4 linked regions of the Homo sapiens genome follow. The protein of the gene in region 1 interacts with the protein of each later gene in a pairwise test. Each region holds a gene or a part of one and is shown in the gene's direction. Other genes may lie near its edges.

Evidence for each region.
Region 2: the proteins of TMEM9 (region 1) and EMP1 interact in binary tests that used the Homo sapiens proteins (3 or more experiments, as listed by UniProt).
Region 3: the proteins of TMEM9 (region 1) and GALNT6 interact in a two-hybrid assay, tested with the Homo sapiens proteins (one large-scale study listed by BioGRID and IntAct).
Region 4: the proteins of TMEM9 (region 1) and TMEM230 interact in a two-hybrid assay, tested with the Homo sapiens proteins (one large-scale study listed by IntAct).

What each region holds. Positions count from the first base shown.
Region 1 is NC_000001.11:201,147,274-201,154,986, reverse strand, and holds the start of TMEM9 (proton-transporting V-type ATPase complex assembly regulator TMEM9 isoform a precursor), read left to right. Parts: upstream 1-512; 5' UTR 513-1,063; coding exon 1,064-1,129; coding exon of another isoform or gene 1,130-1,204; intron 1,205-3,134; coding exon 3,135-3,226; intron 3,227-7,713. UniProt on the Homo sapiens protein: Transmembrane protein that binds to and facilitates the assembly of lysosomal proton-transporting V-type ATPase (v-ATPase), resulting in enhanced lysosomal acidification and trafficking.
Region 2 is NC_000012.12:13,206,013-13,213,725, forward strand, and holds part of EMP1 (epithelial membrane protein 1), read left to right. Parts: intron 1-5,456; 5' UTR 5,457-5,498; coding exon 5,499-5,576; intron 5,577-7,466; coding exon 7,467-7,563; intron 7,564-7,668; coding exon 7,669-7,713.
Region 3 is NC_000012.12:51,378,964-51,386,676, reverse strand, and holds part of GALNT6 (polypeptide N-acetylgalactosaminyltransferase 6), read left to right. Parts: intron 1-3,094; exon of another isoform or gene 3,095-3,216; intron 3,217-4,167; exon of another isoform or gene 4,168-4,364; intron 4,365-6,792; 5' UTR 6,793-6,895; coding exon 6,896-7,386; intron 7,387-7,713. UniProt on the Homo sapiens protein: Catalyzes the initial reaction in O-linked oligosaccharide biosynthesis, the transfer of an N-acetyl-D-galactosamine residue to a serine or threonine residue on the protein receptor. May participate in synthesis of oncofetal fibronectin.
Region 4 is NC_000020.11:5,103,040-5,110,752, reverse strand, and holds part of TMEM230 (transmembrane protein 230), read left to right. Parts: intron 1-1,307; coding exon of another isoform or gene 1,308-1,322; coding exon 1,323-1,421; intron 1,422-4,442; coding exon 4,443-4,565; intron 4,566-7,713.

The sequences.
Region 1 (7,713 bases):
GTTGTGCACACTCTTCACAGGCCCAGCCCACACCACCCATCGCCAACCCTAGATTTCTCCTTCTCAGAGGTGTGTGTAGGGGTAGAGACGTTGCCGCGCAGAAAGTCTTCTGCAGCAAAGACGTGGATCCCTAAATAACATTTCCAGATTTTGAATGAGGACAAAGCCCTTCAATCTCGTATCGTTTTTGTTGACGTTACTAGCTTACAGTGTATAAAGCGCTTTCTTTCTAAAACAGCAAGATGAAACAAGCTGAGTTTTATAATACAAGGAAGGGAGAAGCACCGCAGTGGGAGTTCTCAGGCCACACAAAGGCAAGACCCTTCCCCAGGAGTTTGGAAGGCTGACGTTCCCTTTTCTGGTTTGGTCGGGTTTGAGAAATGCCCGCCTCTCCCTTGCGCAAGAGTCTCCCCGCCCAGGTGAAGGCGGGTCTTGTTGCCATGGCGACAGCGCGGTCGGGTTAAGGGGCTGCTCTGGCAACCAATAGAAGCTAGGAGAGGGCGGGGACAACTGGGTCTTTTGCGGCTGCAGCGGGCTTGTAGGTTCGTGGACGCGGCATTGGGGGAGGGGACGGGGGTCGCGGGGCTATTGGGGGTCCCAGTCCGGCTTAAGACCTCTGGGCGTGGTGGGCACCGGCCTTCGCCGTCGGAGCAGGGGTCCCAGACTCGCACCCAAAAGTTCCCGTCGGGCCCGAGCGGGGAGGAGCTGCGGGGCGGGCAGAGGCGGAGATGGCGGAGGGCGGTGGGACGTGATGCGCGGGTCAGAGCCGGGCCTTGAGAAGGAACTGGAGGCCCCTGGCAGCGGTGTCCCCTCGAGGACCCCTCTGCCGGGCTCACCAGGTGGCTGGCGGAGAGCCGGAGAGTTGGGCGGGAGGGAAGCAGGGTTTGGCGACCAGGTTTAGCAGGCCTTGGAATCCTGGAGCCCAGCCCCCAACCCCATTCCCACTTGGCCGGATGGTTAAGGGCCTAGCGTGCTGGCTGCGGTGTGGCCACCTTCCCCTTCTCCGACTCCGTATCTCTTTTTCCAGGTGTCCGGCTTTGCTGGCCCAGCAAGCCTGATAAGCATGAAGCTCTTATCTTTGGTGGCTGTGGTCGGGTGTTTGCTGGTGCCCCCAGCTGAAGCCAACAAGGTGAGGGAGGTGAGCCTGCAGCACCTGGTCACGACCACAGTGCACGGCCACCCTGTCTACAGGGCTGACTCAGAGGTAGCCAGCTGCTCCTTAAGCCTGCCTCTCACTCACCTATGGGCCATACTTCTTTTAGTGGTCTTCCTTCAGGTTCAAGGCTGCTGGCCTCCCTAAGGATAGTGCGGGTGAGGAGTGAGGAAGGGTGGGGCACAGAGCACTGGCTCACTCTGATCAGACAGATCAGTGGTGGACTTCCAGCAAGGAAGTTTGGAGAAGTTATCTAAGTTCTCCATACCTTCCTTTGCTTTGGACCAAAGTATGTTTTGTTTCAGATATTTTTGGATTTGGGAGTATTTGCACATAAAAAATGAGCTATCTTGGGGAGGGGACCTAAGTCTAAACCTGAAGTTCGTTTATGTTTCATATATGCTGTATATACATAGCCCGAAGGTAATTTTATACAATATTTTCAATAATTGTGTGCATGAAACAAAGTTTATCTACACTGAACCATCAGAAAGCAAAGGCGTCACTATCTCAGGCACCCATGTGGATAGTCTGGTTGGTTGGCATCACCACCATTCCTGACAATGAATTTATATGCTACCGATAAATATTTTCTTACGTTACACATAAGTTCTTAACGGTAAAAAAATATGATGTACTATTAACACAGTGAAAATAAATGATGTGTTCAGGGTAACTAAGCACAGTAGCATCACCAGAATACCTGTATCAGCTGTTAGACACAGCAACATAAGGCTTTCTGTCTCCTGCTGTGATGCTGTGTTTTGATTAAAGGTTACTGTGCACAGTATTTTTTTAGGTGAGAAGTAGTATCTGAAGCAGTAGAGGGACCAGAAAGTGGGTCCTCTAGAGATGAGGAGGCATTCTGCCAGATGGCTTTTAAAAATGTTTTTGCCAGTCACCTGATTCATTAACAAGCTTTTGTCTTAGAAGTCTCTTTGATTTTATAGACTGACACGATTTCTTGTTCTGTTATGAATGCGCTCTGCTATAGTCTTTCAAGAAGCCCGTCACTCATTGTTACCATGTCTGTAGGTGCTTTTCTGCAATGTTAACATCATCTTTGTGGTCATGTCTGTGCTTAACAAGTTTTAGATTGGGAGCATTTCGAATTTTTGTTTTAGGGGTGCTAGTACTACCACCTGTAGTAGCAGTTGTATCTATTACTCTGCTTAGGGAGAATCAAATTACATGACAATGTAAAAATGCCCTGTAAGTGTAAAGTCCTATACAGTTTGAAGTTTCCATTATTAAGGGTGACCCACCTAAGTTCTGGGACTCCTGAGATAACTTCCATTCTTTATTGCTACATTCCTGTGGAGCTGTTTGGGTAGATCTATGGAACTAAAGATCATCCAGACTTTGAAGTAAGGTTAAGGCTGAGAGTTTGTTTCCATTCTCTCCTCAGAAATCCTAATTAGTAAAGACATTTATGGTGATATCTCTTACTCATTCCAGAAGGGAAGAACTTTCAAAGGGGTTGCTTGAGTATTCCCACAGAAATGATCCACTTTTTCTTATTCACCCTCGCCCTTTATGTTTCCCCAATCCTACCTAAGAAGTTGGAGAAGGAATGTGGGGAAGAGGGTGGCTGCCAAGTCCACTGGACAGAGGTGCACACACAAGTGTGGGGTCTGGGGTAGAGGACACACACACACACACACACACACACCCATTTCCCCTCATCCCTCTCCCCGCATTCCTCTAAGTACCTGCTTTGGGACTGGCAGGCCTAGACAACTTTCTGTGAGTCTCATTTGCCATCTGGACATTTTTCTATCTTTAGGACCCGGTGCTGCAGCTTGCTTCCTACAGTGGCAGTCCTTGCTGGATTTGAACTTGGGGATGGAGAAAGCTCAAGAGCATAGATATGGTTCACCTAACAGGATGGGGAACAGAAAGTTGACAACCTTGCTAGAGCCTGAACCCCCTGAACCCCAGGCAGGGTCTCTGCATACTTGACATGTGCTTTCTTTTCCAGAGTTCTGAAGATATCCGGTGCAAATGCATCTGTCCACCTTATAGAAACATCAGTGGGCACATTTACAACCAGAATGTATCCCAGAAGGACTGGTAAGGCATTACACGCAGGCCCCTGGCTGCTATACCCAGTTGAAGTTATGGGTGTTTACTAGAGTTCTTGGACCCTGGAGGATAAGCATGCTCTCCCATTCCTATGGAGAGCCTTTCAAAGGAGTAATTATTCATGTCACAGAACCAATTTCATAGTTGTCAACTGTCTGTGGAAACAGGATCCAGGTGTCTGAATTCCAGCTGAGTGGTCCCTGGCTAGAGGAGTGGATTTTGTTGTTTTGCTTTGAATATTGGTCTTTAGTGATGCATACAGAATAGTAGTAGAGAAGTTGGCAAAGGTAGGTATTCTGACCACATGCTGTAGGATACCTAATGCTTTTGCAAAGCTGTGTTACATGTGTTATTCTGTGCCAGTCTTATAGCATCCTTGTAAAGTAGGTGGGATGGATTTTGCTCCCATTTTATAATAGCAGAGACAGAGGCCCAAAGAAATAATTTAGAGTGTTGAATTCATTTCTGGGTACCTCACTTTTAAAAAGAGAAGAATAACCCAGAATTCATTCAGAGAAAGGAGACTAGTGCGGTGAAGGGAAGTTTTAGCACATTGTCCTGGAAGGAATGGTTTAAGGAAGCAAGGAAAGCCTAAAGAGGAGAGGACTTGGGGACACACGATGATTGATTGAAAGCTGGCATGTTATGGGAGGTGGGACATGTGGGAGCAGGTACTGGTGTGGATCAGTTATGTTCAGTGGGGTTTCTTGGTGTAGAGTTGGGGCCAAGGATAAAAGCTTCAGGGAAACCGACTTAAGCATGAGTTGAGGGAGCATTTCTAATCTAGGCAGTTTTGGGAGCCAGGAAGCTCCGTTCTTGGAGGGCCCCGAGCACAGATGGGCTGAGGTCACTGTAGAAGAGATCAACATCAGATGAGAGGTCCGGGTCAGTGCTGCCTCTCCTGCTTTCTCAAAGCAGATGAGCTTTGAGAAAATACACATTTCCAGTACCACCACCACTGCTCGATTTTGATTCTTCAAATACGGAGTGAGGGTGAGGGGAGGCAGTAACCTTTCTTTCCTTTGGTGCTTAGGATGCAGTTGATCCAGAGCAACACTCGAGAATTTTGAAACTAGTTGAATTTCCAACTCTGAGACTGTCGGTGATTTTCTGAGAGGCAGTCTAGTTAGATAGACAGACTCTGTGTTCCACCTTCCTGACTTCAAATTTAGCTTAGCTGCTTGTTAATTGTGTGACAAATTACTTAATCTCCACTGCACTTTGATTTCCTTATCTATAAATAGTGGCAGTATTTTCTGTGTTAAGTATGTACGTGTTTGTGTGTGTGTTGTGCGTGTATGTGCACAGGTCAGTAACTATAGCACTTAGAACAATACCTGGCACACAGTAAATGCTTATATAAATGTTAGCTGATATTAATGTATATTATCATGCCTTACTGGTGGCCACATAGATAGTCATGGTCAAACTTACACCACAGACTGAGAAAATGGGCTCCTCCTGAAGCACTAGCCTTCTACTTAGGAGAATTCCAAGTAACCCCCTTGTATCTTGTGGTTATAGTTCAAATAGCATCAGTAAAAACTTAGATGGGCTGTCTTAGCCCTTCACCAGATAACAAGGCTATATCCCAAACTCCTTATGCAGGCAGACACTTGCAAATTTAGGAACACTCTCTCTGTCCTGGAGCTATAGATGGCCTGAAAACCCAAGGTTGGATGCCTGCAGAGGACGGAGTCCTGTCTAGACCTCTCAGGCTGTAGTTTATCTCCTTCTTCCCCTCAGAAGTCAGAATTAAGGGGCTGCTTGATGAATAGCCTTACATCAGGAACCTCAGGGCAGCTCCATTAAGGGTGGTGGGTGTAAACTGAGGCTGGAGGAAAGACTCCAGGATTCTAGGACCCAGTGACACTGACCTTGACTGGGAGTCATCCTGTGCTTGCCTGGAGCCTCTTAAGGGTAGGGTGGGGCCTTGACATTGATCTGAGTACCTCAGTGCTAGGGTTAGAGGAGGCCAGTTTGAGTGGGTCTTCTGGTCTCTGCCACATTTTCACTTTGCTGTCACGTTGGTCCATGCTAAAGAACACTTGCACCCTTCTCCTTGGTTGTGCAGAGTAAAGCCAGAATCATCTGACATGCGGTCCTCAGGTTTAATGGCCAAGCCATGTATGTTCCTGTGTTTACAGGTATCCTGCCACCTAGTGTTGAGAGATTATGACCATATGTGCATAAAAAGGCAAAAACCCCAGCTTTGCCCCATTGGTGGGTCCGGCAAGGAGATGTGTTATTAGAGACACTCCCAGAGCAGGAAAGCACTGAATAAGTTGGCTAGTTCCTTGCCTTTCAAACTTGTTAAAATAGAACTTCTCTGCAAACAAAATCCGTTTTGGAAACAAAATCTATAAAACATAAAAGTCGGAATTGCTCTGCCTGAGAGGGAACTGTCCCTCAGCCCCTCCCTGACTACCACCCCACCGTACAGTGGTTCCTGTGGGTCCCAAAAGAGTACAGTTTGAAAGACACTGACCAAGTTCAGTCTCCATTTATAAATGAGGGAACCGAGGCCTGGAGAAGTTAAATAAATTGCCCCCAATCACAGGAGAGTTGGAGACAGCAGAACTATTTCAGCTCCTTATTGCTGTTCCCCTGGGTAGCAAGATCCCACATTGAAGAACTCAGGTCGCCCTTCCAAACTGCCCCTGACACCTTGGCCTTGTGAGAAATCCATAGATTCCACTGCAATACTGGTATGACCTTCTAGACCCAGGACCCAGTGTAGCTCAGGTAAGGGAGGAATCTGGAGGCTTGTAGAGACTTCCTGGAGAAGGGAAGATGGCATTGCCTCTGGACAGGAATGGCAGCCAAGTGCCCTGGGTGACCCTTTTTCCGCTGCTCCCAGCGGAAGCAGCATGCAAGGCCTGAAAGCAGTACTTCCGGTTACAACAGGGGAGACCTGCTCAGAGCAGGGAATAACATGTTGGACACAGAGGTGGAACTGGATCATGAAAGGTTTAGATAAACTCATGTATGCCACATATGGCTTTTTGGGAGAACAGAGTCCTTTAGAGCACATCCCATTCTTAATCCAACACATGGTCTTTATATCACACACCCTTGATGCTTCTGCCAGAAACCCAGCCCTGTAGCTCAGAAGGGAGCTATGCTTGACTCTTGCAGGACTCCTGTCAGAGCTGGAAGGGCCTTTTAAAGATTATCCGGTGCAACCGCTTTATCTCAAAGAGAAGAGAACGGGCCCAGGGTATAGACACTTGGTGGCAGAGCCAGGACAGAGCCCAGGTGCATTGCAGCATGACACCTGCTTCACCTCTGCACACCTCCAAGGGGTTTGGATTTTTCCATTGGTAGTAATGAAGGTGCATTCTGTAGAGTTTTTTGCTTTGTCAGTGTGGTCCCTGAACCAAACAGGTTGGAACCATGCTGATCTGAGGAAGGCTGGGAATGAGAGGCCTGAGACAAGCCAGGTACCAGCCCAGGCCCCACTGAGGCTGAGTCAGAAGTAAAGACCTGTGGCTGAGGGTCTAGATTTGGGTTCTGGCCTCACTACCACTATGGAGATGCCACTTTGCCTCCTAAGCCTCTTTCCCTGTTTTTAGATGTGGAACCTATGATCTTTATCCCACCTTACGCAAGAGTGCTGTTAGATGAAAGTGGGTCTACTCTTCCTTTGGGAATCATGTAGTTACTAAGCCTGCTCTGGCCAGCACCCAGCTAGGTACTGGGAATATGGAGATGTATAAGACATAACCCTGTGTTCAAGGAACGTACATCTCCTGGGGAGACAGCACGAATAAAGATTGGATTACAATGCAGTGCATTGGCGGGGGGTTGGGGGGAGCTGGCTATTGGGCACAGGTGGCTAAGCTGAGAGTTAAAAGATGAGGTGGCAAAGCCATGCCCTCCTGGTGAGAGTGTGGGTGTGGCTCCTTCAGAGAGCAGCCTGGCAGATCCGTGTGGCTGGAGGTTGGGAAAGTGGGTGAGGGAGGCGTAGCAAGAGATGGAACTGGAGTGAGGTGGGTTGGGACCCCTGGCAGAGCAATTGAGTTAGCATTGGCCCTAGGGGCTCTGTGGAGGCACTGACCGGGCCTAAGCTGGGGAATGACATGACCAGAGTTGCATTCTGGAAAACCACTTGGCTGCCGTGGGAAGGTAGTATGTGTTAGAAAGGCCAAACTCGAGGCAGGAGGGCAGCGCGGAGGCTGGTGCGGTTGTCCGAGGAAGATAGGATGAGGGCCTCAGCTAAGACACAGCAGTGGGAGAGAATAAAGGAGATGGATTCTAGGAATTTTTAGGGAAGTAAAATCACTGGCCTTTGGTGATTTTACTTAGATGAGAGGAAGGCAGTGTCAAAGATGATTTCCAGGGTTTGACCCGGACAGTGAAGTGGACGGTAGAAGTGTTCTCTCTGCCATTGCAAATGGGGAGCCAGTTTGCAGGAGTAGGGAGTTGAGGGCAAAGGGTGTGCAGGGGCGGGTGTAGAGTTCATGGTCTCTATG
Region 2 (7,713 bases), on another chromosome or scaffold:
AGATATGTTAGAGGGGAGTTGTTCAGAGACAGGGTCATGGGTGAGGCTGATGCCATGGTCAGGCTAGGACCTGAACTGGACAGTAGCAATGGGAATAGAACATAAGGAAGGATGTGAGATAAGTAATGGAGGTAGAAACTCAGGGTAGGACTGTGATGTTTTGGGCAACAAAAGTGGAATGAGGGGAAGGGAAGATAGGACATTTGGCAGTGGTCATTACTGCTCTTTTCTCCCCAGAAAAATCCTGGCCTTTCTTAAGCTGCCAGGGAAATGCCAGCCAGATCCATACCCTGCTTCTCAGAAAGCTCTCTCGTGCCCTTTTGTAGAGAAGGTCTCCATGATGCCTTTCATTCTGGGAGAATCTCACCCACTCTCAAATGAATCATGGAAATTTGAGCCCTGAGGGCCTCCCCCAGTGTTTGCATCGTCTTCAGCTCCTGATTTCTGAGCATGCTCCCCTCCCACCCCTCAGCTAGGGCTAATTCTTCAGTGACTCAAGCCCCAGGATTTTGACCACTTCCTTCACTGGGGAAGTGGGTTTTTGGTTGCTCTATTCTATTGTGTTGCTCCCAGTTATTGTGTTTTAGGTCACTCTTAAAGAATTGCTGCTGCCGCCAGGCCCCATGGCAGTTCAGTGAACACACAGACTTCTGGACAGGAAGAAGTTATCTGACTCCTAGGTTAGCAATCAGGGAACCAAATTATGCACCTCTAAACTTCCCTTCTGGTCCTTAGAAGTCAATTCTTCTCAAAGTCTCTGCAGATTTAGTTACCCACCAGAAAAGGAAAGGCTCCCATGGGGGCCTGAGTAATTTCTCACTGGTCAGAGAACCCTAAAAGTGTTAGGCTGCCTGAACAAAGGCAACAAGGCAATGCATGGCAGTCTCAGGGCTGTGTTCCTTTGATTCTTTCATTTGTGTGTGTGTGTGTGTGTGTGTGTGTGTGTGTGTGGTGTGTAAGAGGGAGGCAAGAAGCCAATAAAGATTTAAATGGATGGAGATAACTTGAGAGGTTTGGTTATCCCTCTTTCCCTTCCCTCATGTCTCATATTAGTTAGTCCTTTAGAGCTATAGTCACGAGCAATTTTAATCCTCAGGGTTCTATTTTATTTTATTTTGAGACGGAGTCTTGCTCTGTTGCCCAGGCTGGAGTGCAATGGAGCGATCTTGGCTTTTTGCAACCTCCGCCTCCCTGGTTCAAGTGATTCTCCTGCCTCAGCCTCCCCAGTAGCTGGGACTACAGGTGTGCACCACCACGCCCGGCTAATTTCTTGTATTTTTAATTGATACTAGGTTTCACCACGTTAGCCAGGATGATCTCGAACTCCCTCAGGGTTATTTCTACTGACTATATTAGCTATTCTGTTAGCTAAGAACTTTATCTGAATACTGAATGGTCAGTGTTTGTGAGGTTTGCATTAGAGCTAGGAGCACAAAGACACCTCTGCTCTAGTGTGGTCTGGGCAATGCAGAAAGAAAAGGAGGAACAGTGATCAGAAACAAAAGATGGTGGTCAGAGGTAGGGAACTGCAAGCCTGTCCGTTAGGGCAGAAAGAAGAACAGAAAAGGGATATCAGAGACCTGTGTGTGGCTCCGAGGTGCTGATCTCCATTTCTCTTAATAATACTTCTCTCCAGAGTCAACATACATGGGTCCTATACCTTCCTCAGTTTCCCACCCAGCCCCTAACTGCCCCTGTGCCATGTATGTTAGGTAGATGAGGCTTAAGAAGGAGATCATCCTCCACTCACAGTGGTGGGTACAGAAATGTGTTCCTGGCATCCACATAGAAGTCAGTGGACGGCCTGTTCTTTAAAAATGCAATGAATTGATAAGCTCTGCTGGCCTAGGTCTGGGAGTCTAAGCACCACAAATGAACGCTGTTATGAGCGTTCCCCTACAACTTTGGAACTGCTCAGTGCACCAAATGCTCTGCAAAAAGCGGGTCTTGCTTCAAAGTATTCAGAATTGCAATGCTGTGATTCTCTGCATCTTGGTTTGCGCTGCCTCACTAGGACTAGGGGTATGCTTTCCACTGGAGAGTGCCACCCATATCATTTTAGAGAGGGCTGAGGGAGAAGTCTACTATTGTTTTAGTGAAACACACTGCTAAGAAATAAGTAGTAGCCACCAATACTTCCAATGGTATAAATTCTCATAAATGGTATTTTTTTCAGTGCCTTTGTATGAAGCAAGATTCACAATGGGGCAGAGAATGAATCTCCCCACAAGCTACCTTGCAAGTAATGGGTGGGTGGAAGTTTCAGGAGCAGGGGTTCTTCTGTTTATTATACTCTGCTATTTGATAAATGCCCAGACATTTACCCATTAGTTACCACTAATGGCTTTTTCATAAAGACCTCAGTGATCGCCTCCTCCCAGACTGAGGGTTTCCCTGGGGGCAGGAGGTATCTAGCACAGTGTAAAGACTGGGTAACTAGGGATGATTCAGCCCAGAAACTCAAGAAGATAACTCATTCTGTTTTCACCTGTGTTGGGGGGAAGGCCATTGAAAATAATGGAAGCCCCTCTAAACTGACAGTGAATGATATTAGTAAAACCTGACAAATAATGGGCCAGTGAAAAGATGGAGAAGTTGTAGCTTAAGCTAAACAGCCCCTCCTTCTGGCTGGATACAGCAGCTAAAAACAGAGAGAACTGTGTGTTTTGCACAAGACCGCTTGCTAACTCAAGACATTTTGCTTCTTTCCGTGGTGAAAAGACAGGGAGGGCACCATCACAAAAATCTAAGATGAAAGAGAGTCGCTCTTTTGCTTGATTCTCACATCCATTCTTCCAGCCTGCAATGGGCAGGGCATATGGTCAGGTGGATCCAGGGGCCAGGCACTCGCACACACCACCAGGGCTGTGATGCATGGGCCCAGGTAGAGGTGCCGTGGGAGGGGTCATTGAGACAGAGAGTGTGAGCTGGGCAGAGGAAATCAGACTTGACTTTAGGGGTTACAGAGCAACCCAAGGAGACAAAATGCTGCTGAATTCCCAACAGCCTATCAGGGAGGGAATGTTTTCTGTGACTCATTTAAGTGGCCTCACTTGGTGGATTATATTCTGTCATTGGCCCCTCCAGCCCTTCCCCCTTTTAAGAAGAGGATGTTTGTAAATTAGAAGCAACAGGAACAAGAAAGTCATTTGAAGAGCCCGAGGAGGATTAAACATAAGTATTCGTTATGTAATATTTGTAATTCCCTGCAATCAGCCTGTTCCTTTCCCCATAGGGGGCAAGGAGATCAGGATCTGGTGAGGTGTGAATCTTGGGAGGTATGAGGAAGTTGGGCTGAGAAAGTGAACTTTCTCCTGGTCTTTCCTGAGGGTGTGCTCTTAGAGGTCTCCCCCCTTAAGGGGCAAGGGTTAGACAAATGACAATTTCTAAGAGGACCGAAAGGATTGTATACACCCTGCCTCGTGAACTAGACAGCAGATATCTTATTACTTGCACTTAACATGGGGCAGCCTAGCGATTGAGTAACTGGGTTGGGTTGGCAACAGCTACCCGGCTTCACTTATGAATAATAGTAATAATAATAACCGCAGCTAAAGCAACCCCATTATTAGTAGCTGCCATGTGTCAGACACTAGGTGTTTTACATAAACAATCTGAATTCATCCTCACATTTCCCTTTGCAATTGACATTGCGACTTCCACTTTCTAAATGAGGAAACAGATGAGCGGTCAAATAACTGGATATGATTCTAATTCATCCTCTGTCTGATTCAAAAATCTCTTTTTACTGTGCATTTAAGTCAAGCAGAAAATTGGGGAGGTGTGCTAGAACCTGAGAAAAGCAAAAATGAATTTGAATGTGTGGGGGGATTACTAATAGCAGACATGAAAGCTCCAACCTCTCCCCTGAAGAGGCAGGATAAACGTCATAATTTTTGCATTCACAGTTAAGTTGGACACATTCCTAAAAAACAGCCTGGGTTGGAAGGAAGTGGCCAGATTGGGAAGGGGCTGTTGGAGACGGTCAGGGAGAATGGTGGAAGCCATTGTCTGCCTCTCATTCCTTGCTTGCAGAGAGCAAGGCACCCTGATGTATATTAGATCACTCTAGATTTTTGGTTGCCTGATAAAGACAGTGAGAGGAGATAAAAGGCATGTGAAGTGTTGGAATTATAGTATCAGTGCTCTCTAATAAATACCTGATGTGGCATGAAAGTGCCTCAAGCACATTCAAAGCATCAATTAAATTAGGTGGAGTGAGAGAGGGCAGTGGAACAATTGCAGGATGCGCCTGGCCATCTCCTCCCTTGGTTGGGGCATCCACACATCCATTCTGTCTAGGGTGTGAATAACCTCAAGCCCTTTCCTTTTGATGTCCCTCTGAGCCTGCACTGCTTTGTGACAGTCTTAGGCATGACAAAGCTCTCCTTCTGTAGCTGACATAAATCAGAATAGCCTCCCCCATGTGTATCCTTCACACTTCCTTTATTTCCTAGGCTTTATGATCAATGGGCTCCCTTCTCTGCTGTGATTATGGCTGAAAGCTTTTGTTTATCCATGCACATTCTTAATCGATATTAGTTCCCAATCCTCCCACCCTGTGATTTATGCATTTGCCTGTCTTCTGTATTGAGTCCTGAAGGATTGGAATTTGTGTAAATGTCATGTACAAGGAGAAGGCACATTTGGTGCTATCTCAAGTTGCATTACTTTTAAAGCCCCCAGAACCATCACATTGAGCTGTGGAAAATATGACTCTCTGCCCAGACCAATGGCAGGCTTCCTGCCATGAGGCACACAGAGCCCAAAGGCTCAGGTGTAGTAATACTAGTCTGAAATGCTCAGTCACAGGGTGACCAGACCATTAAACTGTAATTAGGTTGTTATAATTATTGAAAACCAAACAGCATTATAATAATAGAATTGTGCCTCTCACATTTTATATCTCGCCCAGGATCATATTAGTAGCCTATTCAGTATATGGGCATTGAGTAATAGCTGCTATTCTTCAGAAGGCATTTACTTCTATTAAAAGTGCTGGGTGAGCAATTTGATGAAAGCATGGACATTTTCCTAGTGGAAAATGGACATTTATATGACATTGTTCAGAGACCTGGAAATTATAAAGGCCTACTTCTTTGAAAATCAAAGTCCTATTTTTAACCTCTAAAACACAAACAAAATAAAATACGAACAGTTATCATAAAATGTTCTTGTTCCTTTTTTGAAATAGAATGTATTAGAGAAATGAATATGTAAATACCCAAGAAGAAACCAAATTCTGTTTCCATGTAGGTATGTATAACTGGATGAATAGGCACTTAGGCAAATCAGAACTAGGTTACAGGGGTGTTTTCAGGAATTTATGATTAGATTGTGATGGTTTTTAGTGCAGCTCTTCCTCATGTTAGCAGATAGCCCACACGTGTGGGAAAGCTGAGTCGTCTTATTGAATCTGACAGTAACCGTTTTTGTCCCTTTCTTTTTCTTTTCAGAACTCTCTTTGCTCACAAGTTACCAAAAAAAAAAGAGCCAACATGTTGGTATTGCTGGCTGGTATCTTTGTGGTCCACATCGCTACTGTTATTATGCTATTTGTTAGCACCATTGCCAATGTGAGTAATGTTCTTTTGTTCATTCATTCATTGAGAAATCATTCGAATATTTACATCAAGTGCACAAAAGAAGTTTAAGCCACAGCCCTTGCCCTTCATGAACTTACAGCTCAGTTGTGGGAAAACAAAATAAACACACGCTTGCCCTTCAAACAATTAAATAACAGGAGGATAAAAGTGAATGTCCACAGGAGTAATCCTGCCAGAGCTGTAGGTGGTTAAGGGCTGGAGGATCTAGTGCAGCTTCTTCGGTCTCTAGAAGAGCCTTCCCAGCAGCAGGGGTGAGTGGAGCTTGAGGTGAACCTGGAGGAGTGGTAGATGGCTGAGGTTTCTCTTAGTGAAAGAGGGAAGGTGGAAGGATCATAGGGATGCATTCAGGTGGGAGTGCTAGCAAAGGAGCATATGTAGGAAGGACAAGCTTTGGTCAGAGGATAAGGAGGACACACACCTATGTGGCTGGAGCCGAACTTCCCCTCCTTCTGAGAAGCTTGATTAGAAGGATAGATGGGAAGAAGAGGATGCCAGACTGACAAATTCAAATTTTGAGCAAAGAGTAGCATGTGAAAGTGGAGTTTTGCAAGATTAACCCAGTGCCACTGAATTAACTAACTCAGACAAAACGAGAAAAAAAAAATGGAGGTAGTGTCTTTTCTCTCTGAACCCTGGGCTACTCTGACCTCTAGTGGTGGCTTACAGCGCCCAATTTGCTTTTACTTGTGCTTTTCTCAGAAAAAAGCCAGCTCCTTGGACCTAAAAACCAAGGCCACCAATCACTAGGCAGGCAAACCATGGTTTCAGAATCTGTTTAGGTCCCTATCACAGTTAAAGTATAAGTGAGTTTTAAAGTTCAGATAGAAGAGCTTTGCAAACATTAGTGGGTGTGATCATAAGCAAGGCTAATTAAGAATAACTGTGATAAGACAACCCCCGCCCACGTGACCTCCTTGTTTTGTAATTTAGCCATTCTATATGTCAACTCCTATATCTATCCAGATAAATCTGATAAGCTTCTTCAAAGTGTATTAATGAGCGCCAAAGCGCTGCGTATCTGTGAATTACCAGCCCCTAATATAAGGCTAGGCACACAGTTGTTTATTGAATGAAGAGCAGGGATTGGCGTAGGTGATGCATGTTCCCGGCCCCACCTTTCCAGTGTGTGCATTTGTGTGTGTGTAGACAGGACACTGCACTTGTTTTCTCTTCCAGAAGGATAATTCCTTTTCTTGGGCCAGGCAGGAAGGGATGGCGGCACCATGATCAGTCTGGGGGAATCCATTCAGGTCACCCTTCAGCTTTTAGTAGCCCCTACAGGAAAGCACTTGCTGTAGTATTTTACTATCAAATTACTTTGCATGTTGTGACAGTCAAGTTTGATCCTTCTGTTTAGATGAAAGTGGCTTATTAACCACTAGATTCATTGTTATTTTCCCAGTAGGTCTTATGTTTCTTAATTGTTTCCAGTTGGACATTTCACTTTTTTCCTGGTTAACCAGGGACTTAAATGAAACAATCTTGTTAGAGTATATGAACTGCACATACCTAAGCCAGTTTCCTCATCCTGGACTTCTGTTTCTCAGAACCTTAGAATTTTAAACCACTGTGGTTGAGTTACTTCCATTTTTGTTAAGTCGTGAAGAATGTGGAGCCCAAAGAGGGCTAGGTGATTTCTTTCTGGGTTTCACATTCTTCTGTGTCTCTTCTCTTGGCAACTTTGTGAACTTCAGTTTTAATCGGACCTTATTTCCGCCCACAGATAAGCTGCATAGCCATAGTTATAGCTAAATAGAATGTCTTTATTAAAATCTGATCCCGATGCAAGCTGATTTGTTATTTTATTTTTAAATCAGAGGGCCAGCTTTCAATTAACATTTTCTTTCCTTCTGGTTTCAGGTCTGGTTGGTTTCCAATACGGTAGATGCATCAGTAGGTCTTTGGAAAAACTGTACCAACATTAGCTGCAGTGACAGCCTGTCATATGCCAGTGAAGGTATATATAAAGATATTGACCCAGTGCTGACAATAGGTGTGGTCAGGGAATGTTCAGCCCCTGGAGTGACCTCATGCCCTTGTTCTCCTCGTCCTGTGTCTACAGATGCCCTCAAGACAGTGCAGGCCTTCATGATTCTCTCTATCATCT
Region 3 (7,713 bases), on another chromosome or scaffold:
GAGTGGTGACAGTTATCACTTTCCAAAGAAACTTGTAATTGAGCCCTCCTCTGAGTAACTTGAGCAAATATCGCTGTGGTAAGGACTGCTTGCTTCCTGCTGCCACGTCTAAGGAGGTGACCAGCTCACCTGATAAATAGAAAGAAACATTGTTACAAAGAGGCCACCTGGAAAGCTAGGGCATGTTCTGGATGGCTGACTCTGACATTCACAAAAGCTAAGGCTGCCTGGGACTTCCAGTCTCCACATCTTTAAAGCATTTGTATCCTTGAGTGGGAGGAAGGCAAATGCCAGGAAGGGGATCAAAGGGTGGAGTCGGGGAGGCTCAGGGAGGACAGGCCTGGTCCCCAAATTCCCTACTCAACCTCCACGGGTATGAGTGTGGTAAACAGAGTAGTGGTCTAGGAGTTGAGAGATCGGGTTCTACTCCTGGGAGCCACTAGCTGTGTGTTGCTAGAGAAGTCACCTAACCATTCTGGCCTCGCCGTTGATAAAATGAGGGTGTTAGACCCACAGACAGACCTAGTCAAAACAGCAAGCTAATGTGTAATGGCAGAATATCCTGTAAGTCAAGTATTTCTTGCAGTAAGTTCATTCAGAACATCATTTAGTGAAGCCAGTGCTCCACATTTAACCCTTCCAACCTCATCTCATTTAACAAGAGTTTGTGGAACTAGCCAGGCCTGATGGCACGCACCTCTGTATTCCCAGCTACTCAGGAGGCTGAGATAGGAGGATTGTTTGAGCCTGGGAGGTCGAGGCTGCAGAAAGCTGTGTTCATGCCACTACACTTCAGCCTGGGTGACAGAGTGAGACCCTGTCTCCAAGAGAAAAAAAAAAAGTTTATGGAACACCTGCTATATGTAAAACTTGTGCTAGACTTTGTAGGTGATAAAAAGCTGGAAATGGCATGGCCTCTCTGGTCCAGGAGTCCATAAACACAGGGTGGGCTGTGATGAGACTGGAGTACAAATAAAAATCGGGTGCTAAGGGGGCAAAGCAGGGAAGAGATGAATTCTGCTGGGAGATCTGAGAAGGCTTTTTGGAGGGGGGCTAGAATATAAACTGTGGGGTTTGGACTGTGTCACTGGCTTTCAAACTTCTATGACTTGACCAAAGTGAGAAATATACTTTATAGCGAGACCCGGTACCTGTGTATATGTGACAGGGCATCCCAAAAATCTTAGGGCAGTTTTATAATTTAATCACATTACAAGCATAAATTCTGCAAACCATAAAAACTATCATTTGAAAATGGAATCATTTAAACTTCTTTTGTCTTTAGTTGTATGAATTTTGAATAACAAATTTATCATTTTAATTTTGTATCAGGCAGTGTGTATCTTTAATAGACTGAAACAAACATTAAAATAAAAGTTTACTTTTCAGGCTGGACATGATGGCTCACACCTGTAATCCCAGCACTTTGGGAGGTCAAGGCAGGAGGATTGCTTCGGCCTAGGAGTTGAAGACCAGCCTGGGCAGCATAGTGAGACCCCCATCTCTACCAAAAAATAAAAATTAGCCGGTCTTGATGACACACACCTATGGTCCCAGCTACTCCAGAGGCTGAGGTAGGAGGATCCTTTGAGCCCAGGAGGTCAAGGCTGCAGTGAGCTGAGATTGCACCACTGCACTCCAGCTTAAGGAACAGAATGAGACCCTGTCTCCAAAAAAAAAGAAAGAAAGAAAAAACGAATACTTGCCTGTGTTACATGTGATACATGATGCACTTTGATATTTTCTTTTCATTCTATTCTGGGTTTTTAAAATTTATTTATTTTTATTTTTTGAGACAGGGTCTCGCTCTATTGCCTAGGTTGTAGTGCAGTGGCATGATCATAACTAACTACAGCCTCAACCTCCTGGGCTCAAGCAATCCTCCAGCATCAGCCTCTCAAGTAGCTGAGATTACAGGCCTATGCCACCACACCCAGCTAACTGGTCTCTTTTTGCTAATTGGTCTTTTTTTTTTTTTTTTTTTTGAGACAGAGTCTTGCTCTGTCACCCAGGCTGGAGTACGGTGGTGCTATTTCTGCTTACTGCAACCTCCAGCTCCTAGGTTCAATCAACTCTCCTGCCTCTGTCTCCTGAGTAGTTGGGATTACAGGCACATGCCACCATGCCTGGCTAATTTTTGTATTTTTAGTAGAGAAGGGGTTTCACCATGTTGGCCAGGTTGGTCTTGAACTCCTGGCCTAAAGTGATCTGCCCACCATGGCCTCCCAAAGTGCTGGGATTTCAGGTGTGAGCCACTGTGCCTGGTCCTAACTGGTCTTTTAAAGAAATTTTTGAATGCTAATTTGCAACACTCTGAATTTATTTTATAATATCACAGTGGATTGTAATCAGCAGTTTGATACAAGCTGGGCTGGGTAAAGCCTCAGTTCCTTACACCAGTGAGAGAAGGTAAGTTTGTGTTCTGGCCGGTGGGGCCAGGGAAGCAAATCCCATTTGTTCAATCTAGGCAGGCTTTTCAGAGAGGATTTCTGGCATCATCTCGGGATCAAAGCCAAGGATGGTCCAAAGAGTTGCAGGCCCAAGGGTAGCTGGAGGAAAAAGACTTGGGAAGAAGTGCTGAGCCACAGCGAGAGGGAAATGAGTGGATGGGGGCTGCGGGCACACTTGCCAGGAAAGCAGGAGGCCAGGTGTGGGAGCCCAAAGGTGAGGGAGATATACAAGACACCAGGGGCGGATCTCGTGAAGCTTTGTACTTGAAACAATAGCAAAGAATAGCAGCTATTCTTTCTCCAAGGCTGGTGGAGGGGCGACCTCCACGACCTTGCTAACCATACTTCTGGGAATCATCTCCTACACAGGGAGCAGAAATCCTTAACCCCAAAGTCCTGTGGCTTGCACTAGATTCTGTGTCTCTTCTAAGGGACTCTTCCTGTTGCCCTCATGCTAAGCAAACAAACTAGAGAATGAGTGCCTCACCACCAAGGCTAATCCCAGGTGTCTCATTTCGGTTCAGGATGTGGTTAGTACCTTGAGGAACTGTAGGTTTGAGAGAGAAAGCTTCAGGCAGCCAGATGGGATTGAGAGATTAGATGCCTAGGAAGAGCTCAATTTAACCCTATATTTCTTTCTCCAGGGAAAATAAAAGAAGCAAAAACAGGCCCTGCTGTGAGGGACCACGAGGCAGTGCCAGGATGAAAGAGTTGGAGTAACCTAGGTGATTCTGAGTGAATCAGTCAGGAGGCCTTCCTGGAGGGGGTGAGTCTTGAGCACTGGCAACAGTTAGTAACTACAATCTTACCATGCCTTTGTTTCTAACTGTGCTCCCTCTTTCTTGCTGGAGTGGGAAGGTAGATGGAAAGTAGCAGGGAAGACGAAGCCTGCAGGACGGTTCAAAGCTGTCATGGCAAACACTCCCCCATTCTGCAGGCCTCTGTGTGGGCTTAGCCGGGACAGTTCCAGAACTGATGAGGTGTCTAGCTCAAGCAAATCCCCCTGTGCTAGCCCCAGCATAGCTCAACCTCTGTGACAAGAAACTCCTGCTACACTGAATCCCCATTTCCTCCCCGAAGCCTTCCTCAAACCCACAGGGAACTCTACCTCTCTCAGCTTAGCTCTTACTGTCTGTGCTATTCTGCTTTAATTTTATTCATTTTTGAATAAGTAATATAGTCAGGGTTCAAAGTACAAAAGAGTATTCAGTGAAAGGTCCTTTTCCTGCTCCTGAATCTCCCCTGGTCAGGTGCTTCCTTCACCTGGTCAGTGCTATCAGTTCTCGTTCTCCAATAAGATTTTCAAATCCCTTGGGGAAAGGAATTGAGCCTTTGTGTCCCTCTGTGTACCAGACGGGGTAAACTGTCCCACCCCATCACCCAAGGGGGTCTTCCTAGGCACCATACCCTCCCTCTTCCATCCACACTGCTACTAACTCTCCTGGGTCAGACTCCGAATGGGTCATCCAGCTGCCAAGCAGGTCCCTTTCCAAGATACCCTCCACCGCTGTCATATTGCTCTTCCTGTAATGCTGGGCTCCCAGCTTAACGCTTTATTACTCCCCATGCCTTGGGTCAAGGGCAAATGCTCCTCAGCATGATGAACAAGGCCCTTAGGACTTGGTTTCAGCCACCTCTGTAGGCCCAATTTCTGCTACTCCTGCCATACCAGACTGCTTACAGTTCTGTGACTGGCTCTTCTGTCTCCCACCTCTAGACCATTGCAGGTACTGTGCCTTCTGCCTGAAATGTGCTCACCTCGCCTCGCTGACTCCTACTCGCCAGTTAGTGTTCGGCCCATTTCTGCCCCCGTGAGATTTCTTCACAGATGTTGCCCTCCCCCATTTGCTGAGTTTCCTGCATGCCGGCTCCTTCAGCACTCAAGGGTACCTCTTTGATTCTGCTTCTCACAGGGTAATCTCTGTTTAAAATCTGATGCCCCCAATTGACTGTAGGATCCTTGAGGGCTGGCCTTGCACTTCTCTGTGTCCCCCGCCTCTTGCAGAGTACCTGGTAGAGGCAGTTATTCAGTAAATACTGGTGGAATAAACAAATCTCTCCTATCTCCTAGACAATAGTTAATACAAAATAGATGCTCAAAGAGATTTCTTTTGTTTGATTTTTGACGGTGCTGCTGAATCTGATGTTATAAAAGAAGCCACATTTGTACCCCAGTCCAGAATGAATCCACCTCCCCACTTGAGATCACGATGGCCACATACTCCCAAGGTCTCAGACACCAGGCCTCTCCACAGGCAGGAGCTTGTGCGTTTAAACAATAGCATTAAATAGTACAACCAGAGTTATTTTTAAGCAAAACATGCAGGGAGTAATGAACGTGGCTTTGGCCAAGGGCCAGGTGCTTGAGGATAACTGCTGGGAAGTGAAGCAGGGATTTATCATAATAATAGAAATAGTTGATACCATTTATTGAGGGCTTAGTGTGACAGGTGCTCTGCCAAACATTTTACCTACATTATCTGATTTAATCCTCCCCACAACCCTGTGAGTTAGGTATTAGTTGCCCCCACTTTATAGATGAGGAAATTGAGGCTTAGAGGGATTAAGTAAATTACCCAAGGGTCACACAGCTGCTAATGATCAAAACTAACACTTTGTGGGAACTTACCATGTGCAGAGACTGCTAAGCTTTGTCCATGAATTTTGTGGGGAAGGAGCATAATCCTTGTAACAACCCTAGGAGGTAGGTGCTACTACTAGAAGAGGAAGAACTGGAATTTGTGCCCAGGTCCCTTGCCATTGATGTCTAGTGCTTAACCAGTGAGCTTATGTGTCCAGAACTCTGCACAGAAAGTTCTGCAAGCATTCATCCTCTAGGGCATGGATCCACATGCCTGGGGGTGGAGCCTGGTGAACGCCCATGCCCAGCCCTGCCGGGAATGTCTTGTCATGAAATCTTAGGTTTCTGTTAAATTCTTTTTTATTAAATAGGAGTAGATTACAGATAACTTTTATTTATTTATTTTTAAAGACAGAATCTCTCTCTCGCCCATGCTGAAGAGCAATGGTGCGATTATAGCTCACTGCAGCCTTAACCTCCTGGGCTCCAGCAGTCCTCCTGCTTCAGCCTCCCAGGCAGCTAGGACTACAGGTGTGCACCACTACGCCTCGCTAATTTTTAAAATTTTTTATTGAGATGGGCTCTCAATACGTTGAGCAGACTGGTCTTGAACTCCTGGGCCCAAGCGATCCTCCCACCTCAGCCTCCCAAAGTGCTGGGATTACACCATGCTTGGCCAAGAAATATTTATAAAATACGTATAGGGTCTAAAGAATTACAGTCCACCAGCAGCCGCCATCCACTTTGAGAAAAAAACACTTTGAAGTCCCCCATTAACCATCTCTAATCCTGTACCGTTTTCTTCATCTTCAGAAACTGGTTATGTCATTTCTTTAGCTTTCTTTTTTTCGTGGGGAGACGGAGTCTTGCTCTGTTGCCCAGGCTGGAGTGCAGTGGCATGATCCTAGCCTACTGCAACCTCTGCCTCCCGGGTTCAAGTGACTCTCCTGCCTCAGCCTCCCAAGTAGCTGGGATTACAGGCATGCGCTACCACGCCCAGCTAATTTTTGTATTTTTAGTAGAGACAGGGTTTCACCATGTTGGCCAGGCTAGTCTTCTTTAGCTTTCTTTATAGCTTTATCACATATTTGTATTCAAGAACAAGATATTGTTTAATTTTAGCATGTTTTTACATTTTCTATAAGTGGAATCATACTGTATGTATCCTTTTGTCACTTGCTTTTTTCACCCAACAACACATCCACATTGTTGCATGGAGAAGTGGTTCATTCTTGGTCATCACTGTAGAGCACTGCACGGTATGGGTATTTTGCACTTTATTTATTCATTCTGCTAGTGGACTTAAAGGTTTTACCAGTTTGTTGCCATTTAAGTCAGTGTTGGCTTAAATGTTCTTGTACATACCTCTTGGTTTGCATCTACCAGAGTTTGTCTGGGATATAAAATGAGGAGTGGAATTGCTGGCTCAGGCTGTGTTCATTTCAAATTTTTCTTGATAATACCAAGTTGTTTCCCAAAGCCATAATGATTAAATCTCATGAGTTTAATGATTAAATCTCATGTAGTGTTTCAGTGTTCCAGTGACTCTAGATCCATGCATATTAGGATCTTAGGGCAGGAAAGAAACACTGCCTCCGGTCTCCTCATTTTATGGATGAAGGAAATGTAGATATGGGAAAGTTGTGGCCAATAAGGTGATGCCACCACTCAGCAACAGAGCCTGGCCTCGAACCCCAAGCACCCGACTCCCTCCTTACCCTGTGTTGGCTCACTTCTCTCTCTTGTCCCCTCCTTTCTCAGGCTGAGGCCCCAGCTTGTGGCCACCACAACGTATCAAGCTATCTCCAGGGTTGGGCTCAGGACTCAGAGCTGACGCAGCTGGGGTGCCCCTTGGTTCTGGAGGATGAGGCTCCTCCGCAGACGCCACATGCCCCTGCGCCTGGCCATGGTGGGCTGCGCCTTTGTGCTCTTCCTCTTCCTCCTGCATAGGGATGTGAGCAGCAGAGAGGAGGCCACAGAGAAGCCGTGGCTGAAGTCCCTGGTGAGCCGGAAGGATCACGTCCTGGACCTCATGCTGGAGGCCATGAACAACCTTAGAGATTCAATGCCCAAGCTCCAAATCAGGGCTCCAGAAGCCCAGCAGACTCTGTTCTCCATAAACCAGTCCTGCCTCCCTGGGTTCTATACCCCAGCTGAACTGAAGCCCTTCTGGGAACGGCCACCACAGGACCCCAATGCCCCTGGGGCAGATGGAAAAGCATTTCAGAAGAGCAAGTGGACCCCCCTGGAGACCCAGGAAAAGGAAGAAGGCTATAAGAAGCACTGTTTCAATGCCTTTGCCAGCGACCGGATCTCCCTGCAGAGGTCCCTGGGGCCAGACACCCGACCACCTGAGTAAGTAGCACCCAGAGTCCTTGTGGGGAGACCAGGGCTTTGCTAAAGGCATGGCTAGTATGGCCAGGGCCATAGATCAAGGGCCAGAGAAAGAGTTGAAGGGAATTTTATAATATGGGCAAGGATCTCCTCTATGCCTCACTTCTTTCCCAGAACAACTGTGCTGATCCCAGGGGTTGTGATTCAAGGGTATTATGGTCAGGCCAGAGGCCCAGGGAGACCTGTGAGAGTGAAATGCAATTATGAAAGTGAGATGATGTGGAAGAAGGAACTCAGCCTGGCACCAGGACCTGGCACGGGGTGACTGGGGAGACCTGATACCAAGCT
Region 4 (7,713 bases), on another chromosome or scaffold:
TTCTTTCTTTCTTTAAAATTTTTTGTAAGATATTATACCATATTCCGTTTCTTAAGGTTGGTACAGAAGTAATTAGGAAAATGAAATCACTACTTTCAGTGCTTGGGATGGGACAGAGAGGTGGGCGCTTCTGGAGGCACTAGTATAGCCAGGCCTGTATCCAAATTTACAAGGGGCCCGGCACAGTGGCCTGTAATCCCAGCACTTTGGAAGGCTGAGTTGGGCAGAACACTTGAGGTCAGAAGTTCGAGACCAGCCTGGCCAACGTGGTAAAACCCCATCTCTACTAAAAATGCAAAAATTAGCCAGGCGTGGTGGCACACGCCTGTAATCCCAGCTACTCAGGAGGCTGAGGCAGGAGGATTGCTTGAACCCAGGAGGCAGAGGCAGCAGTGAATGGAGATTGCGCCACTGCACTCCATCCTGGACAGCAAAGTGAGACTATCGCAAAGAAAAAAAAAAAAACTGAGTTCAAGACCAGCCCGGCCACCATGGTGAAAACCAGTTCGTTACTTAAAAAATACAAAAATTAACTAGGCATGGTGGTGCATGGCTATAATCCCAACTACTCGGGAGGCTGAGGCAGGAGAATCGTTTGAACCTGGGAGGCGGTGGTTGTAGTGAGCTGAGATCAACCCACTGCACTCTAGCCTGTGTGACAAAGCAAGACACCGTCTCCAAAAAATACAAACAAACAACAACAACAAAAAAACCCCACAAATTTACGGCAAGAAACTTTACAGATCTTTTGCATTAAAAGGTTGATCTCTATCAAGGGGAAATAGGCAAAATGCTGATGTGAGTGTATTCCATTCTCTGCCCTCTTCTCCCTCCCTGTCAAACAAGAGAATCATTTGAGTATATGCTCCTCTTGCTTTTTCTTAAGAGCGGGAGCAGGGGACAGGCAATGCTGTGGTGTCAGGTGGACCTAGATTTAAGTCCCCATTATTCTACCTAGTCTCTATGTGACTTTGGAAAAATTAAAAGTCAGGGAATCTTGGTGGCAAAATAAACTGGAATGTGATTCTTGGTGAGTGTCTTCACTGTCATTCTACAAGGACAGACCAGACTAGATATTTAATACATAGTGAGAATCTTTTCACTGTGTCAGAGGCATATCTGGTTTTCCATATGCATATGCCTCTGACACAATGAAAATTTAGCAGTGAAGTGTAAATTGCCCATTGCTAGTCTGACATGGCAGCCCAGAACTCCAGTGCACAGCATCTAATAATCCTGAACTCATTGGCTATAATGCACCATTGTCATCTACAGACAATAACGGGTTTTTTGTTTTTAAACTGTAGCTGTGTCAGCGTGTTATGATGCCGTCCCGTACCAACCTGGCTACTGGAATCCCCAGTAGTAAAGTGAAATATTCAAGGCTCTCCAGCACAGACGATGGCTACATTGACCTTCAGGTAAATGCAGAAGAGAACTGACAAGACTGACTGGCTGTGTTTCTGTTAAGTTAGCAGGAAGACCTTCCAGATGGAGATTTTGCTAACTGTCCTTGGGGATTAGAAGGAGCAACAAGAAGAAAACTCAGCTCTGAGACCCTTTCAGCCATAATCGCAGAAGAGGGCCGTGGCAGGGTAGTTTCAAACCAATTCCAGTATTGTCCATTTCTAAGAATTTTTAGTTGTAATGCGAGAGCCTTGTAGTTACAGGTTTTATTTACTTTATTCAGAAACTAATCAGATTGTGTTTTGTTAAGTGGAGTTTTTTGTTGTTGTTTCTTTTTTTAAGGAACTTTAAAATTTTTGTTAGGTGGAATTTTTTTTATCACTGTTTATTTACACTTTAGTCAAAGCCCGTTCACCTTTTAAGGGAGAAACTTATTACTAAAGCCAGCAGATTGTGGGAATCTTCCTTCTTTCCTGATGTCATGAGATCCAATTTATTAAAGGTATTCTTTGTGATAAATAGTAAGTAAAACACAGTATTTATTAAGTTTGTATCCTACCCTAACCATTTATAAACTAGTCAATACTACAGCATCTCCTTTTGCACACTTCCCCTTACAATAGAATGTTCTACGTGGAACTAGGGCCAACGAGGAAGTAGCAGGAAACCATCCTTTATAAATAAATAAATTACTCTTTGGACCCACATTTGAAGGAGAGATAAAAATAGATCTGGAAAGATCTGGGAAGCTTCCAGCCACTTAGGTCAGATACAACGATGAGCCAAACCTTGGAAAATTTGTCTCTGAATCTTAACCTTGAATTGAATTTGTTCATAAGGCAGGTTTACTTGCTATGTGGAACAAACAACTAATCATTTGGAATAAGCTGAAATTGCCTTCTTTTCCTTTTTTTTTTTTTTTTTTGGAGACGGAGTTTTAGTCTTGTTTCCCAGGCTGGAGTGCAGTGGCACAACCTCGGCTCACTGCAACCTCTGCCTCCCAGGTTCAAGCGATTCTCCTGCCTCAGCCTCCCAAGTAGCTGGGATTACGGGCATGCGCCACCACGCCCAGCTAATTTTGTATTTTTAGTAGAGACAGTGTTTCTCCATGTTGGTCAGGCTGGTCTTGAACTCCTGACCTCAGGTGATCATCCTGCCTCGGCCTCGCAAAGTGCTGGGATTATAGGCGTGAGCCACCTTGCCCAGCCTCTTGTTTTGTTTTGTTTTGTTTTTAAGATGTAGTCTTGCTCTGTTGCCCAGGCTGGACTGCAGTGGTGCAATCCTGGCTCACTGCAACCTCCCCCTCCTGGTTCAAGTGATTCTTGTACCTCAGCCTCCCTAGTAGCTGGGGGATTACAGGCATGCACCACCATGCCTGGCCAATTTTCGTATTTTTAGTATAGATGGGGTTTCGCCATGTTGGCCAGGCTGGTCTCGAACTCTTAACCTCCAGTGATTCACCCACTTCGGCCTCCCAAAGCGCTGGAATTACAGGCGTGAGTCACCGCGCCCAGCCTTTTTTTTTTTTTTTTGAGACAGGGTCTTGCTCTTTTGCCCAGGCTTGGGTACAGTGGCACAATCAAGACTCACTGTAACCTTGACCTTCTGGGCTCAAGTAGTCTTTTCACCTCAGCCTCCTGAATAGCTGGGACCACAAGCATGTGCCACCACACCCAGCTAATTTTAAAATTTTTTGTAGAGACAGGATCTCTTAAATCCCCATAAGTTAGTACAGCCATCTATGTGCCAGGCAGTTAATAAATATATATCTAACAAATGAATGACTGTAAAGTCATTTCTGTTTTTGTTTTAAAGAAAAGTTTCTTATGATACAATGAATGATTTATGGAATGAGATTCGAACTAGAGTGAATGACATTCCTCTGAGATTCCTTTGAGTAACTGTGAGAGCAATAACTAGAGCTTCATCTCTTGCCAGTCCCTTTTATTTCTCAGAGCTGCACTGGGTGGTAGGACATACTTAAGACACATAAAGTATCTAGTTTGGTTCTTAATTACCCTCCTGTTTTTGCTGTTGTTGTATTTGAAACAGGCTCTGGCTCTGTCACCCAGGCTGGAGTGCAGTGGTGCAATCTCAGCTCGCTGCCTCTTCACCTCCTGGGCTCAAGCCATCCTCCCAGCTTAGCGTCCCAAGTAGCCGGGACTGCAGGCACATGCCACCACGCCCGGCTAATTTTTGTATTTTTTGTAGAGACGAGGTTTCACCATGTTGCTCAGGCTGGTCTCAAACTCCTGAACTCAAGTGATCCGCCTGCCTCAGCCTCCCACATTGCTGGGATTACAGGTGCGAGCTCTCCTCCCTGTTTTAAAGTGTTTGAGACTGGGCTTGATGGCTTATACCTGTAATCCCAGCACTTTGGGAGGCAGAGGTGGAAGGACTCCCTTGAGCCCAGGAGTTGGAGACCACCCTGGGCAACATAGTGAGACCTCGTCTCTACAGAAAAATTTAAAAATTAGCTGGGCATGGTGACGTATACTTGTAGTCCCAGCTACTTGAGAGGATGAGGCAAGAGAATTGCTTGAGCCCAGGAGTTCGAGGCTGCAATGAGCTGTAATTGCACCACTGCACTCCAGCCTGGGTGATAGAGCAAGACTCCGTCTCTAAAATCATAAAAATTAGGCCGGGCGCGGTGGCTCACGCCTGTAATGCCAGCACTTTGGGAGGCCGAGGCGGGCGGATCACCTGAGGTCAGGAGTTCAAGCCCAGCCAGGTCAACAAGGTGAAACCCTGTCTCTACTAAAAATACCAAAAAAATTAGCTGGGTGTAGTGGCGGGCACCTGTAACCCCAGCTGCTCAGGAGGCTGAGACAGGAGAATCACTTGAATCCAGGAGGCAGAGGTTGCAGTGAGCCAAGATCACGCCATTGCTCTCTAGCCTGGGCAACAAGAACGAAACTCCATCTCAAAACAAACAAACAAAAACATAAAAATTACAAATAATTAATTAAATGTTTGAACCCAGGTATTTGCATTAATGTTCTTCGTTGTCTTTTTCATCTCTATTTCTCTTCCAGTTTAAGAAAACCCCTCCTAAGATCCCTTATAAGGCCATCGCACTTGCCACTGTGCTGTTTTTGATTGGCGCCTTTCTCATTATTATAGGCTCCCTCCTGCTGTCAGGCTACATCAGCAAAGGGGTAAGCTGACGGGCATGTGGGAATAAGTTGTGAGATTTTTAAAATGTTAGCCAAGGCTCTAGTGTGCGTGTGTGTGTGTGTGTGTGTGTGTGTGTGTGTGTGTGTGTGTTTGTCCGTCCCAGTGGTCTGTTTTTTTTGAGACAGGGTCTTGCTCTGTCATCCAAGCTAGAGTGCAGTGGCACAACCTTTACCTCCCTGGGCTCAAGCGATCCTCTCACCTCAGCCTCCCGAGTAGCTGGGACTACACGTGTGTGCCACCACACCCAGCTAATTTTATTTTTTATTTACTTATTTTTGTTTGTTTTATTTTGTGTAGAGACAGGGTTTCACTATGTTGCCCAGGCTGATCTCTAACTCCTGAGGTCAAGCAGTCTGCCTGCCTCAGCCTTCCAAAGTGCTGGGATTGCAGGTGTGAACCATTGCCCCTGGCCAATTTTTTTTCCAATTTTTATGGGTACATAGTAGGTGTATATACTTAGGGGATACATGAGGTATTTTGATACAGCCATGCATTCATAATAATCACATCAGGCTAAATGGGGTATCCATCCCCTCAAGCATTCATCATTTGTATTACATTCCAATTATACTTTTATTTATTTATTTATTTTGAGACAGAGTCAGGCTGGAGTGCAGTGGCATAATATCGGCTAACTGCAACCTCCGCCTCCCAGGTTCATGCTATTCTTGTGCCTCAGCCTCCCGAGTAGCTGGAATTACAGACGTGCGCCACCGCACCCGGCTAATGTTGGTATTTTTAGTAGAGATGGGGTTTCGCCATGTTGCCCAGGCTGGCCTCCCAAAGTGTTGGGATTACAGGCATGAACCACTGTGCCTGGCCTATTTTTAGTTATATATATACATATACACATACATACATACATACATATATATATATTTTGGAGACAGAGTCTTGTTCTGTCACCCAGGCTGGAGTGCAGTGGCAGGATCTCAGCTCACTGCAAACTCCGGCTCGTGGGTTCAAGTGATTCTCCTGCCTCAGCCTCCTGAGTTAGCTGGGACTATGGTGGCAAGCCAGCACACTTGGCTTATTTTTGTATTTTTAGTAGAGATGGGTTTTTGCCATGTTGGCCAGGCTGGTCATGAACTCCTGACCTCAAGCGGCCTGCCCGCGTGGGCCTCCTAAAGTGCTGGGATTACAGGCGTGAGCTACCACGTCCAGCCTTAGTTATTATATTTTTAAATGTACAATAAATTATTCTCTAGTCACTTTGTGCTATCAAATACTAGAGCTTATTCATTCTATGTAACTATATTTTGTACCCGTTAACCTTCCCCATTCCCCCCTACCTTTCCCAGCCTTTGGTAACCATCATTCTACAATATCCATGAGTTCAATTGTTTTAATTTTTAGTTCCCGCAAATGAGTGAGAACATGGAAAGTGTGTCTTTCTGTGCCTGGCTTAATTTCACTTAACATAACGTTCTCCAGTTTCATCCATGTTGTTGCAAGTGACAGGATCTCATTCTTTTTAGTGGCTGAATAGTACTCCATTGCATATATGTACCATATTTTCTTTATTCACTTGTCTGTTGAAGAACACTTTGGTTGCTTCCAGATCTTGGCTGTTGTGAATAGTGCTGTCATAAATATGGAAGTGCAGATACCTCTTTGATAAACTGATTTCCTTTCTTTTGGGTATATACCTAGCTGTGATTGCTGGATCATATGGTAGTTCTATTTCATACTGTTCTCCATAGTGGCTATACTAATTTACATTCCCATCAACATTGTACGAGGGTTCCCTTTTCTCCACGTCCTCGCTAGCATTCGTTATTGCCGTTTTTTTTGGATAAAAGCCATTTTGGCTGGGTGCAGTGGCTCACGCCTGTAGTCCCAGCACTTTTGGAGGCCGAGGCAGGAGGATCACTTGAGCCCAGGAGTTCGAGACCAGCCTGCGCAACATAGCGAGACCTTGTGTCTATATTTTTTAAAAAGCCATTTTAACTAGGATGAGATGATATCTCATTGTAGTCTTGATTTGCATTTCTTTGATCAATGATGTTAAGCACCTTTTCATATACCTATTTGCCATTTGTATGTCTTCTTTTGAGAAATGCCCATTTTTGATTGGATTATTAGATTTTTTTTCCTACAGAGTTTGAGCTCCTTATATATTCTGGTTATTAATTCCTTGTCAGATGGATACTTTGCATATATTTTTTCCCATTCTGTGGGTTGTCTCTTCCTTTGCTGTACAGAAGCTTTTTAACCGGATGTGATCTCATTTATCTGTTTTTGTTTTGGTTGCTTGTGCTTTTGGGGGCATTACTCAAGAAATCTTTGCCCAGTCCAGCATCCTGGAGAGTTTCCCCCATGTTTTCTTATAGTAGTTTCATAGTTTTAGGTCTTACATTTAAGTGTTTAATCCATTCTCATTTGATTTTTGTATATGTCAAGAGATTTGAGGGGTCTAGTTTCATTCTTCAGCATATGGATATCCAGTTTTCCTAATACCATTTATTGAAAAGACTGGTTCTTTCCCCAGTGTATGTTTTTTTGTTTTTTGGTTTTTTTGTTTGTTTTTTTTTTTTTGAGACAGAATCTCACTGTGTCATCCAGGCTGGAGTGCAGTGGCACCATCTCGGCTCACTGCAACCTCAGCCTCCCAAATAACTGGGACCACAGGCATGTGCCACCACACTTGGTTAATTTTTTTTTCATTTTTTGTATAGATGAGGTTTTGCCGTGTTGCCCAGGCTGATCTCGAACTCCTAGACTCAAGCAGTCCAGGAGTACAGTGGTGTGATCACAGCTCTCTGCAACCTCAATCTTCAGGGCTCAGTCGATCCTCCCACCTCAGCTTCCCAAGTAGCTGGAGTTACAGGTGTGAGTCACCATACCTAGCTAATTTTTTTGTTTGTTTGGTAGAGATGAGATCTCATTATGTTGCCCAGGCTGGTCTTAAACTCCTAGGCTCAAGCAATCCTCCTGCCTCAGCCTCCCAAAGTGCTGGAATTACAGGCTTTAGCCACTGCACCCCTCTGACTATGTTTCCCGTTGTGTGTTAATTATGGTCAGTGTGAGGCCCACCCTAGCCTCCCAAAGTACTGGGATTACAGGCGTGAGCCACCACACCCGGTGGATGTAGAATTTTATCAAATGCTTTTCTAGCATCGATTGAAA